3 linked regions of the Homo sapiens genome follow. The protein of the gene in region 1 purifies or fractionates together with the protein of each later gene. This does not show direct contact. Each region holds a gene or a part of one and is shown on either strand. Other genes may lie near its edges. The genes, in order: TRPC1, GRM1 and ENKUR.

Region 1 (3,655 bases):
ATTAAGATTCATAAGCAACTAAGAAATTATGGTAATAATTGTCTTTTTACAAAAATGTTCAAAGTGTTATAAACAGTTTAGCCTACCATGTTTTTTAGTATCTTTAATTTTGAAGGTTTCATTTACAATAATATGGTTATAAATACATTGGGGTCTGTAATACGAGTTTTGCACATTTGATAAAGCTACATTTTAAATCATTTTCACTGTAAAAAGTCTGCATGGGTTTTTTTTTTTTTTCCTTTTTAAAATTTGGTTCAAGCTAATTTGAAGTTTGATGTCAGTTAACATTTTTATCAGTATTGTCATTTATATTTCCAGATCCAGCAACTGAACTTGATCATGTCTTTTTATTTTTTCACATCATCATTCTTTTTCCTCTTAATAAAACTTTCTGTTTTAAGCATCATTGGTAATATTTCAGTTAGAATGTTGCAATTGCCACACTCAGGTTTGTTACAGAAACTTGGTTTGAAAAGCTTTACAAATTTTTTGACATTAAATTCTCTCACACTTCACAACTAACTTCAAATTTGGTTAATATAAAATTAAACTGAACAACATTGATACTCTCTTTGCCATAAAATCAAACGAGATGCTAATGAGGAAGAGGTGGAATCACCTGTTCTTAATCAGTATTGTAACATTTCTCCATTGTATTTCTCAAGGGTTTATTACAGTTGGCCAGAGTAAATTTGTTGCTAAGGATCTATGGGATCACTCTGGTATTTTGTATACTAGTTCATTTTTTTTAAATTGCTGGTTAGGACTCACTAAATTGATTTTATGACTGTTAATGGGTTGCAACCTGCAGTTTGGAAAACATTGGTTTGGAATGATCATTGGCTGAGCCGCAGAGAGGCACAAGATGAATTCAGAATGTTAACAAGGTCTAACTAAGTCCTATAGGGCTTTGTAGGCCACAGTAGAAATTTGGCCTTTATTTTAAGTGTGATAGAAAAATCACAAAGTTTGTAAGCTTGATATGTTTTGATTTTTTTTTTTTTTTTTTTTTTTTTTTTGAGACCGAGTCTCGCTCTGTCGCCCAGGCTAGAGTGCAGTGGCGTGATCTCGGTTCACTGCAAGCTCCGCCTCCCACGTTCACGCCATTCTCCTGCCTCAGCCTCCCAAGTAGCTGGGACTACAGGTGCCCCCCACCATGCCCGGCTAATTTTTTGTATTTTTAGTAGAGGCGGGGTTTCACTGTGTTAGCCAAGATGGTCTCCATCTCCTGACCTCATGATCCGCCTGCCTCAGCCTCCCAAAGTGCTGGGATTACAGGCATGAGCCACCGCGCCCGGCTTGTGTTTTGAATTTTTAACCGATAACTCTAGCTGTGGAGTGCAGAGTGGATTGAAGGGGTGGGGCTAGAGCAGGAGTGAGCAAACTATGGGCCACAGACCATATCTGCCTGTTCTGTGAGGTCTTGGAGCTAAAACTGGTTTTTTACATTTTATATTTCAAATGGTTAAAAAAAATTTCGTAACACATGAAAAGTCTATAAAATTCAAATTTCAGTGTCCATAAACAAAATTTTCTTAGAACACATCCACTATCATTTGTTTACATATGGTCTGTGGCTGCTTTTGTGTTGAAAGGGCAGAGTTGAGTAGCTGTGACTGAGAGTGCATGGCCCACAAAGCTTAAAATATTTACTCTCTAACCCTTTTTCAGAAAACTTTGTTGACCCCTGTGCTACAGTATAAAGTATTAGTAAGTAATATAAGTTGCAATAGGGAAAAGAGTAAACAAGGAAGGGGGTGAGTGTGGGCTCAGTGGAGTCAGGGAAGTGAAAAATTACAAAATACGGGGCTTGGGGAGTTGGTCCATGTGAATCCCACCTGAGTTTGCTAAAGGCACTTAAGGAGTTAGGCTCCTACCCTCCCTGGAGGCTGAGAGATAGGGGCCCTGTCTTCAGGTGTTGGCTGGAACAAAAGTAAATTTTTATGTCAGCTTTGAGTTTTCTCGGGCAGGCATTTTAAGAGGGGCTAGGGTCATCCTAGGGATCCGGCCTTCAGCTGTTAGAAACACTTAAGTGTTTTGTTCAAGTTTATATGGGCCAAGGTGGAGGCCTTGTGGAGAAGGGCTCAGAAAAGCCTGACTAGAGTTTGGTTAAGGAGAGAATCTTGGTCAGCAGCTGTGTTAGTTAAGAGGCTATTGCAGAGTCCAGGAGGAAGATCATGGGGGTTTGGACTGTGGGTAGCAGTATACATGGAGACAAGTAGATGATTATGGGAGATATTTTAGAGAGGGGGCTAAGAAGACGTGCTGTTGAATTGGTATACTCCCTGTGGAATTGATTGAAAATGGTTTCTTTTTCCTTGACTGAAAAAGACTACCATCTAGCCAAAAAAGTAAACAGATTATGTTGCACTTCCTTCTATGTGTTATATTTTAAAAGACAAAAGATGTAACTCTTGAAAGCAACTTCGTTATAAAATGAATGGCATTTATATATTTGTCTGTCATACACAGGCATTTTGAATTGTAATCCTTGTTCTATAACTAGCTACTTGCTGTCTATTTTAAGTTTTCTGACCTCTTTTTACATATATACTCATCCTAAAAATTAAGAGTGTTCTGGTCTTTTTTTTTTTTTGACATAGTGCATTGTTTTAAATGAATTGCAAATATAAACTTCTCTGAAATGCTTAGCAACCACTCTAGGTTTCCTGTAGGTTCTGTGACTATAATGTGATTTTTCATTTGCATGACTGTGTTAGCTGTAGCAGGGTGGAACCTTTTATTTTTAGGGATGAAAATTATTTATTTGGTTTTGATTTTTAGGGATTTTCTTTCTTTCTTGTATAGCTCCTTGACTACAATAGAAATAATCTTTAAAACCTTAGGGCTGGGCACGGTGGCTTATGACTGTAATCTCAGCACTTTGGGAGGCCAAGGCGGGCAGATCACTTGAGGTCAGGAGTTCGAGACCAGGCTAGCCAACATGGTGAAACCACATCTCTACTAAAAATACAAAAATTAGCCGGGCGTGGTGGCAGCTGCCTGTAATCCCAGCTACTCAGGAGGCTGAGGCAGGAGAATCGCTTGAACCCAGGAGGCAGAGGTTGCAGTGAGCCAAATGGTGCCATTGTACTCCTCCAGCCTGGGTGACAGAGTGAGTCTCTGTCTTAAAAACAAAACAAAAACTTTAAAGCTGGAATATATGATATTTGTAATGTACTTTCCTTTTTAACAGCAATCTAAACTTTTAAACATGTAGCAGTTATTTTTGTCTATTTGCTATACCTGAAATTTATAAAATGTCATAAGGATTTATTTGTGTAGCTCTTCCTACGTTTCTGTCTCTAGCAATATGGTTGATTAGATAATCTGAAAACCTTTCTTCTTCAAATCACCTAGAAATTATAGCTAAAATATAATGAACATCCAGTTAAATGAACAGCTGAGCTTTCAAGAAAGTAGGGGAAACAACCAAGATACAAAAGTGAAGAAAAAACTGAAAAACAGGAGTTTGTGAGCTGACACTATGGCTGCTCCATGGGTGGGGATAAGAGTTACTGTTCTGGGCATTGCAGGGATTTGAGTCTTAATGCCCATATGAGAACAGGTTACAAGGCCTGGAGACTGTACAAAGTGAGGAGTTGGATTCAACATCTAAGCATAAAACCAGGATTCTTAAAGGACTGTACCT
Region 2 (3,655 bases), on another chromosome or scaffold:
CCCGCGGACGACGACGACGACAGCGAGAGGTTTAAGCTCCTCCAGGAGTACGTGTATGAGCACGAGCGGGAAGGGAACACGGAAGAAGACGAACTGGAAGAGGAGGAGGAGGACCTGCAGGCGGCCAGCAAACTGACCCCGGATGATTCGCCTGCGCTGACGCCTCCGTCGCCTTTCCGCGACTCGGTGGCCTCGGGCAGCTCGGTGCCCAGCTCCCCCGTGTCCGAGTCGGTGCTCTGCACCCCTCCCAACGTATCCTACGCCTCTGTCATTCTGCGGGACTACAAGCAAAGCTCTTCCACCCTGTAAGGGGGAAGGGTCCACATAGAAAAGCAAGACAAGCCAGAGATCTCCCACACCTCCAGAGATGTGCAAACAGCTGGGAGGAAAAGCCTGGGAGTGGGGGGCCTCGTCGGGAGGACAGGAGACCGCTGCTGCTGCTGCCGCTACTGCTGCTGCTGCCTTAAGTAGGAAGAGAGGGAAGGACACCAAGCAAAAAATGTTCCAGGCCAGGATTCGGATTCTTGAATTACTCGAAGCCTTCTCTGGGAAGAAAGGGAATTCTGACAAAGCACAATTCCATATGGTATGTAACTTTTATCACAAATCAAATAGTGACATCACAAACATAATGTCCTCTTTTGCACAATTGTGCATAGATATATATATGCCCACACACACTGGGCCATGCTTGCCAAGGAACAGCCCACGTGGACATGCCAGTCGGATCATGAGTTCACCTGATGGCATTCGGAGTGAGCTGGTGGAGCCAGACAGAGCAGGTGCGGGGAAGGGAAGGGCCCAGGCCAGACCCATCCCAAACGGATGATGGGATGATGGGACAGCAGCTCCTTGCTCAGAAGCCCTTCTCCCCGCTGGGCTGACAGACTCCTCATCTTCAGGAGACTCAGGAATGGAGCGGCACAGGGGTCTCTCTTCATCCACTGCAACCCATCCAGTGCCAGCTTTGAGATTGCACTTGAAGAAAGGTGCATGGACCCCCTGCTGCTCTGCAGATTCCCTTTATTTAGGAAAACAGGAATAAGAGCAAAATTATCACCAAAAAGTGCTTCATCAGGCGTGCTACAGGAGGAAGGAGCTAGAAATAGAACAATCCATCAGCATGAGACTTTGAAAAAAAAACACATGATCAGCTTCTCATGTTCCATATTCACTTATTGGCGATTTGGGGAAAAGGCCGGAACAAGAGATTGTTACGAGAGTGGCAGAAACCCTTTTGTAGATTGACTTGTGTTTGTGCCAAGCGGGCTTTCCATTGACCTTCAGTTAAAGAACAAACCATGTGACAAAATTGTTACCTTCCACTTACTGTAGCAAATAATACCTACAAGTTGAACTTCTAAGATGCGTATATGTACAATTTGGTGCCATTATTTCTCCTACGTATTAGAGAAACAAATCCATCTTTGAATCTAATGGTGTACTCATAGCAACTATTACTGGTTTAAATGACAAATAATTCTATCCTATTGTCACTGAAGTCCTTGTAACTAGCGAGTGAATGTGTTCCTGTGTCCTTGTATATGTGCGATCGTAAAATTTGTGCAATGTAATGTCAAATTGACTGGTCAATGTCAACCTAGTAGTCAATCTAACTGCAATTAGAAATTGTCTTTTGAATATACTATATATATTTTTTATGTTCCAATAATGTTTTGTACATCATTGTCATCAATATCTACAGAAGCTCTTTGACGGTTTGAATACTATGGCTCAAGGTTTTCATATGCAGCTCGGATGGACATTTTTCTTCTAAGATGGAACTTATTTTTCAGATATTTTCTGATGTGGAGATATGTTATTAATGAAGTGGTTTGAAAATTTGTTATATTAAAAGTGCACAAAAACTGAGAGTGAAAATAAAAGGTACATTTTATAAGCTTGCACACATTATTAACACATAAGATTGAACAAAGCATTTAGATTATTCCAGGTTATATCATTTTTTTAAAGATTTTCCACAGCTACTTGAGTGTCTAACATACAGTAACATCTAACTCAGCTAATAATTTGTAAAATCTTTATCAATCACATTTTGCCTTCTTTTAATTTTTATGTTCATGGACTTTTATTCCTGTGTCTTGGCTGTCATAACTTTTTATTTCTGCTATTTGCTGTTGTGTAATATCCATGGACATGTAATCCACTTACTCCATCTTTACAATCCCTTTTTACCACCAATAAAAGGATTTTTCTTGCTGTTTTGATTTCTTCTATTATTTGTGGAATGAATTATACCCCCCTTAAATATCTTTGTTTATGCCTTATGTTCAGTCATATTTTAATATGCTTCCTTCATATTGAAGCTGCTGATTTCTCAGCCAAAAATCATCTTAGAATCTTTAAATATCCATTGCATCATTTGTTCAGAATTTAACATCCATTCCAATGTTGGAGGCTTGTATTACTTATATTTCATCATATTCTATTGCCAAGTTTAGTCAGTTCCACACCAAGAATGAACTGCATTTCCTTTAAAAATTATTTTAAAACACCTTTATTGAAAAGATCTCATGACTGAGATGTGGACTTTGGTTCCATGTTTTCATTGTAAGAAAGCAGAGAGCGGAAAATCAATGGCTCCAGTGATTAATAGATGGGTTTTTAGTAATTGACAAATTCATGAGGGAAAGCATATGATCTCTTTATTAGTGAATCATGCTTATTTTTTACTCTTAATGCCACTAATATACATCCCTAATATCACAGGGCTTGTGCATTCAGATTTTTAAAAAATTAGGATAGATAAGGAAACAACTTATATTCAAGTGTAAGATGATATCAGGTTGGTCTAAGACTTTTGGTGAACACGTTCATTCAACTGTGATCACTTTATTACTCTGAATGCCTACTATTATCCTGATTATGGGGTCTCCTGAATAAATAGAGTATTAGTCCTTATGTCATCATTGTTCAAAATTGGAGATGTACACATACATACCCTATACCAAGAGGGCCGAAACTCTTCACCTTGATGTATGTTCTGATACAAGTTGTTCAGCTTCTTGTAAATGTGTTTTCCTTCGGCTTGTTACTGCCTTTTGTCAAATAATCTTGACAATGCTGTATAATAAATATTTTCTATTTATTAAATGTGTATGTTCTTTCTCTATAGTCTGTGAGAGTTATAATAATAGAAATAGACCAGTGGAAGAAATAATTCCAAGGTTTTGATTTGACTCAGAACATGTCTTCTGGGTGAAAGCTGGAGAATGCCACACAAGATCTACAGATCAAGTAGGTGAGAAGTACAATTTGACCATGAAGAAGTGGTACCTCATGTTGTAACAGTTTTAAATGAACTCCAAAATTAAAATTTGCAGTGCCCTTGGCAGATATTGTCATTCGTCTTTTTGATGAGGGTGTGAGGCTGAACAAACTCCTGGCGTTCTAGTGGAGCTCTGGGGGCAAAGGCATCCAATGTTCCCAGCTTTGTTTCATTCATGCCCTACAAGGCTTTTCTTTCCATGGTTCACACTTTAGGGGGGCCTCGTTTCCAACCTTACTGCTACTCTTCTGCTCACCCTAAGTTCTATTCCTCTACATTTCAACTGACACCTCATTGGTTCCCCAAACAAAGGAGTCTCTGTTATTCACATTTTCTGCTATGAGATTCCTGCAAAGTAGGGCATTT
Region 3 (3,655 bases), on another chromosome or scaffold:
CAGAACACATACATATTATTTCATTCTCTATTTTTGGTGAGTCTCTGTCACCATAGAATGCAAATTCCCTGAAGACGGAAACTTTGCCTTTTTTATTCACTAGTATTCCTAGCACCAAGTACATTCTCAAACATCTTTTGAAGAAGGAATACATAGTAATTCTGTTTCTATAGATGGTGAAATCAAACGCATTTACTAAGCTGAAAGAATCACAGCTGATGGCTTCACTGTCAGTCGTTGTGACATGGGAAAATTCCCTTATTCCCCTCGCAGAGTGTACCATAGGGCTGTGGCTCACTTCTTCAGTGCCCCACTGCTCACACTTCTAGGGGGAGCATGCCGAAGGGCAGGTTGTGAGGCTCTGACTCCAAAGCAGGGTCTATGGGTCGATGTTTACAGCTCCTGAAGCCGCAGTGGGCGTGTGTTACAGGGTGCTCTTTTGGTTTAGCTGTCCATAGGTGGCTTGTGTTTGCTCAATTAGACTCCCTGCCTTATGACAAGGACAGAGGGCTTCCAAAGGACTTTCTGTATCCCAGGAGTCTTGCCTTGGTATACTTGAAGAATTGGATCACACGTGGGCTTGGAGAATGAGTGCAAGGTTTTATTGAGTGGAAGTAGCTTCAGCAGATGGGAGAGCCAGAAGGGAGATGGTTTTTCCCTGGAGCCGGGCAGCTCTGTGGCCCGGGCTCTCCTCCCACCACCCCGGCCAAACTCTGCGTTGTTCCACTGATCGATGGCCTGCCGGCATGCTGGTGCCCATTGGTGTGCTCTTTTGTTGGCACGCCCCTGTCAACAGCCTCCACTTATACGTTCTTCCATTGATGTGTTCCTCTCGACGTCCAGCCATTTGTGTGCCTGCCTGCTAGGGTCTCGGGGGGTTTTATAGGCACAGGATGGAGGCATAAGTTTTCAAAGACTTTGTCTTTTCTTTAACGAGACCACGAAAAAGAGACTTCAAAATATTCAAGATATTTCAGGTAAAAACTGAAGCATGTAGAAGGTAGAAGGTAGAAAAGCCAACTCTTGAATATCTTATTCAAGATATTTCAGGTAAAAACTGAAGAACGTAGAAGGTAGAAAAGCCAACTCTTAGGAGTAAAGTATCAGCCAGGAGCAGGCGTGGGAAACATTCAGAAAAGGGAAAACAAGCAACTGCAATAACAACTCCATTTATTTATGTATTTAGAGATGGAGTCACACTCTGACACCCAGGCTGGAGTGCAGTGGCACCTTGGCTCACTGTAACCTCTGCCTCCCAGATTCAAGAGATTTTTGTGCCTCAGCCACCCGAATAGCTGGGACTACTGGCACATGCCACGATGCCTGGCTAATTTCTGTATTTTTAGTAGAGACGGGGTTTCACCATGTTGGCCAGGCTGGTCTCGAACTCCTGACCTCAAGTGATCCACCCCCCCACCCCTCAGCCTCCCAAAGTGCTGGGATTACAGGTGTGAGCCACTATGCCTGGGCAATAACAACTCCATTTTAAAAGGCAGGAATCTACTAGCTCTCAATGGAGGGAAAAAAGTCACTGAATTTTGTCAATTTACAGGGTTTTGAACAAAGGATTTAGTCTGTACCATTTCTTTTTCTTCCATCATCAGTTGATACGTACCCATATGTAAGATTGCATACAAAATATTGATTACTTTTTTCTGCAAAATCTTTTTAGGATTATGGTGTCACACCTGAATACATATGTAAGCGAAACGAGGAAATAAAGAAAGCCCAAGAAGACTATGATCGTTATATCCAGGAAAACCTTAAGAAAGCAGCTATGAAAAGGCTCTCCGATGAAGAAAGGGAGGCAGTTTTGCAGGTGTGTGTTCTGCCATTTACATTCATCTGTAACTCTTTGGATCATCTCTGAAAGAAAGGTGTACCATCACTTTGATGATTAAAGTCAGCACTTGGATTTTGAAATCAGAACAATCTCTTTGGGTTACAGTTAAAAACTACATACAGCAAAGCTGACTCTTTGGAGAGAGCAAAAAGTTGTGATATAGGGATTCATTTAATAATATTTTATTTCCAATTTGGTGAACTGTTTTTTTCCTGAACTAGTGTTGTAAGGAAGCCTACCTTCCTCTACAACGAACATGCATGAAATGAAGCAAATAAAGCATTTTTATTTTCATTTTTATGCCCCTGAGTTTGTGAAAAATAATATTCATAAATTAGATATTTTTCACTAGATGGAGCTCTAGAATAATTGAAACTGTCCTTAAAACAACTTTTTTTCCTTTCCTATAAGGCAAATGTCCAAAATTTTAAATAAACAGGTGCTAGGTTTCACATATGTTTTTCTTGTTTTTAATTACATAGACTTAAAGATATATTTATATTGGATTTTTTAATGCAGGGCTTTTATCTGAAGCATTTAAAATATTAGGGGGTGTAAGAGTTTCTGCTTCATCATTTGTATGAGCGTTTAATTAAACACCTCTTTGTACTTTTTATAGTCATACTGTCTCTTATAGAGGCAGAAATAATACTTAATTCTTTGTTTATTTTTCATTTTGAAAGCATCCCACGAAGCCATTTCTAGTTTATTATTAATCTCTGTTGAAAAATGGATTCATATGCTGTTACAACTTCTGAACATTTTATCAATGTCATCATAATCATCAATAAACATTTCTTAAATGCTAAACCCTGAGGATATTTTAAAAGGCATAAGATTTTTTAAAATATCTGCAGTGGAGTATTGTGCAATTTAATTAGTGAGAGGTACTATGGATCTATGTACATGTATAGATGTGAATATGTGTATGTGTGCAGCTCTTAAGTTTCATAAGGTTCCAAGGCACTAGTCACCCCTGGAGGATTGTAGATCGTTAGCTGGGCCTGAAAATGTAGAGTGACGGCATGTCCCAGACAGTAGGAGTGGCTCAAAGGCAAGGACGGTGTCTCTTTGCTGACAGCAGCATCCCCAGTGCCTAGCACAGTGCCCAGTGAAAACGCAGATGTTCAGAAATGGTCTGCTGCAAAGGAGGAAGGCAGACAGGCAGGAAGGAAGGCTGGCAGACATGGAAGTGAGAATTGGCATGTCATTTTCAGGGAGAGTTCTCGTCTGTGGCCCATTCTGTCTCTCTCATTTGGATTTTCCCATTTTCAGAAAGTACGTGCCTTTGTGAAAGCCAGGTTTTTACACCTAAATGATGCTGAAAAATAAGAATATGACAAAGAACTTAGAAGTGACAGGTCCTTCCCTTCTGTGTCTTTTTGGCTGTAGGAGATAAGCAGCCCTCAGCTTCCCATTACGGTCGCTACAGAGTTACCCTTTGATGTGATGATAGCAAATCATCCACTGGACGCCTTATGAGCCAGGGAGCAGAGCTGCCATAGTAACAAAGCCACCGGCTGGCCTCCTGACGAGCCCTGAGCCACACTTCCTTCCCTAGGCAAGAGTTGCATGTAGTTCGATGACAATCTGGTTGTATGTCCCTGAGTAAGCCACATTCTGCTCATTCTTCATAAAATAACAGTCTCATTATACCTGGACAGGATCATCTGGTCTAGTGATTCCAAACTTCTCATTTTTAAAATGAGGAATATATATATATATATATATATATATATATATATATATATATATATATATATATATATATATACATATGCTGTGTCACTCTACATTTTCAGGCCAGCTAAA

What was found.
Region 2: the proteins of TRPC1 (region 1) and GRM1 purify together in Homo sapiens (affinity purification with western blotting, with the first as the bait; one study listed by BioGRID). This does not show direct contact.
Region 3: the proteins of TRPC1 (region 1) and ENKUR purify together in Homo sapiens (affinity purification with western blotting, with the first as the bait; one study listed by BioGRID). This does not show direct contact.

Annotation. Positions count from the first base shown.
Region 1 is NC_000003.12:142,730,381-142,734,035, forward strand, and holds part of TRPC1 (short transient receptor potential channel 1), read left to right. Parts: intron 1-3,655. UniProt on the Homo sapiens protein: Forms a receptor-activated non-selective calcium permeant cation channel. Forms a heteromeric ion channel with TRPC4 or TRPC5 that has reduced calcium permeability compared to the homomeric TRPC4 or TRPC5 channel.
Region 2 is NC_000006.12:146,434,488-146,438,142, forward strand, and holds the end of GRM1 (metabotropic glutamate receptor 1 isoform alpha precursor), read left to right. Parts: coding exon 1-309; 3' UTR 310-3,114; downstream 3,115-3,655. UniProt on the Homo sapiens protein: G-protein coupled receptor for glutamate. Ligand binding causes a conformation change that triggers signaling via guanine nucleotide-binding proteins (G proteins) and modulates the activity of down-stream effectors.
Region 3 is NC_000010.11:24,988,627-24,992,281, reverse strand, and holds part of ENKUR (enkurin), read left to right. Parts: intron 1-1,672; coding exon 1,673-1,819; intron 1,820-3,655. UniProt on the Homo sapiens protein: Adapter that functions to localize a calcium-sensitive signal transduction machinery in sperm to a calcium-permeable ion channel.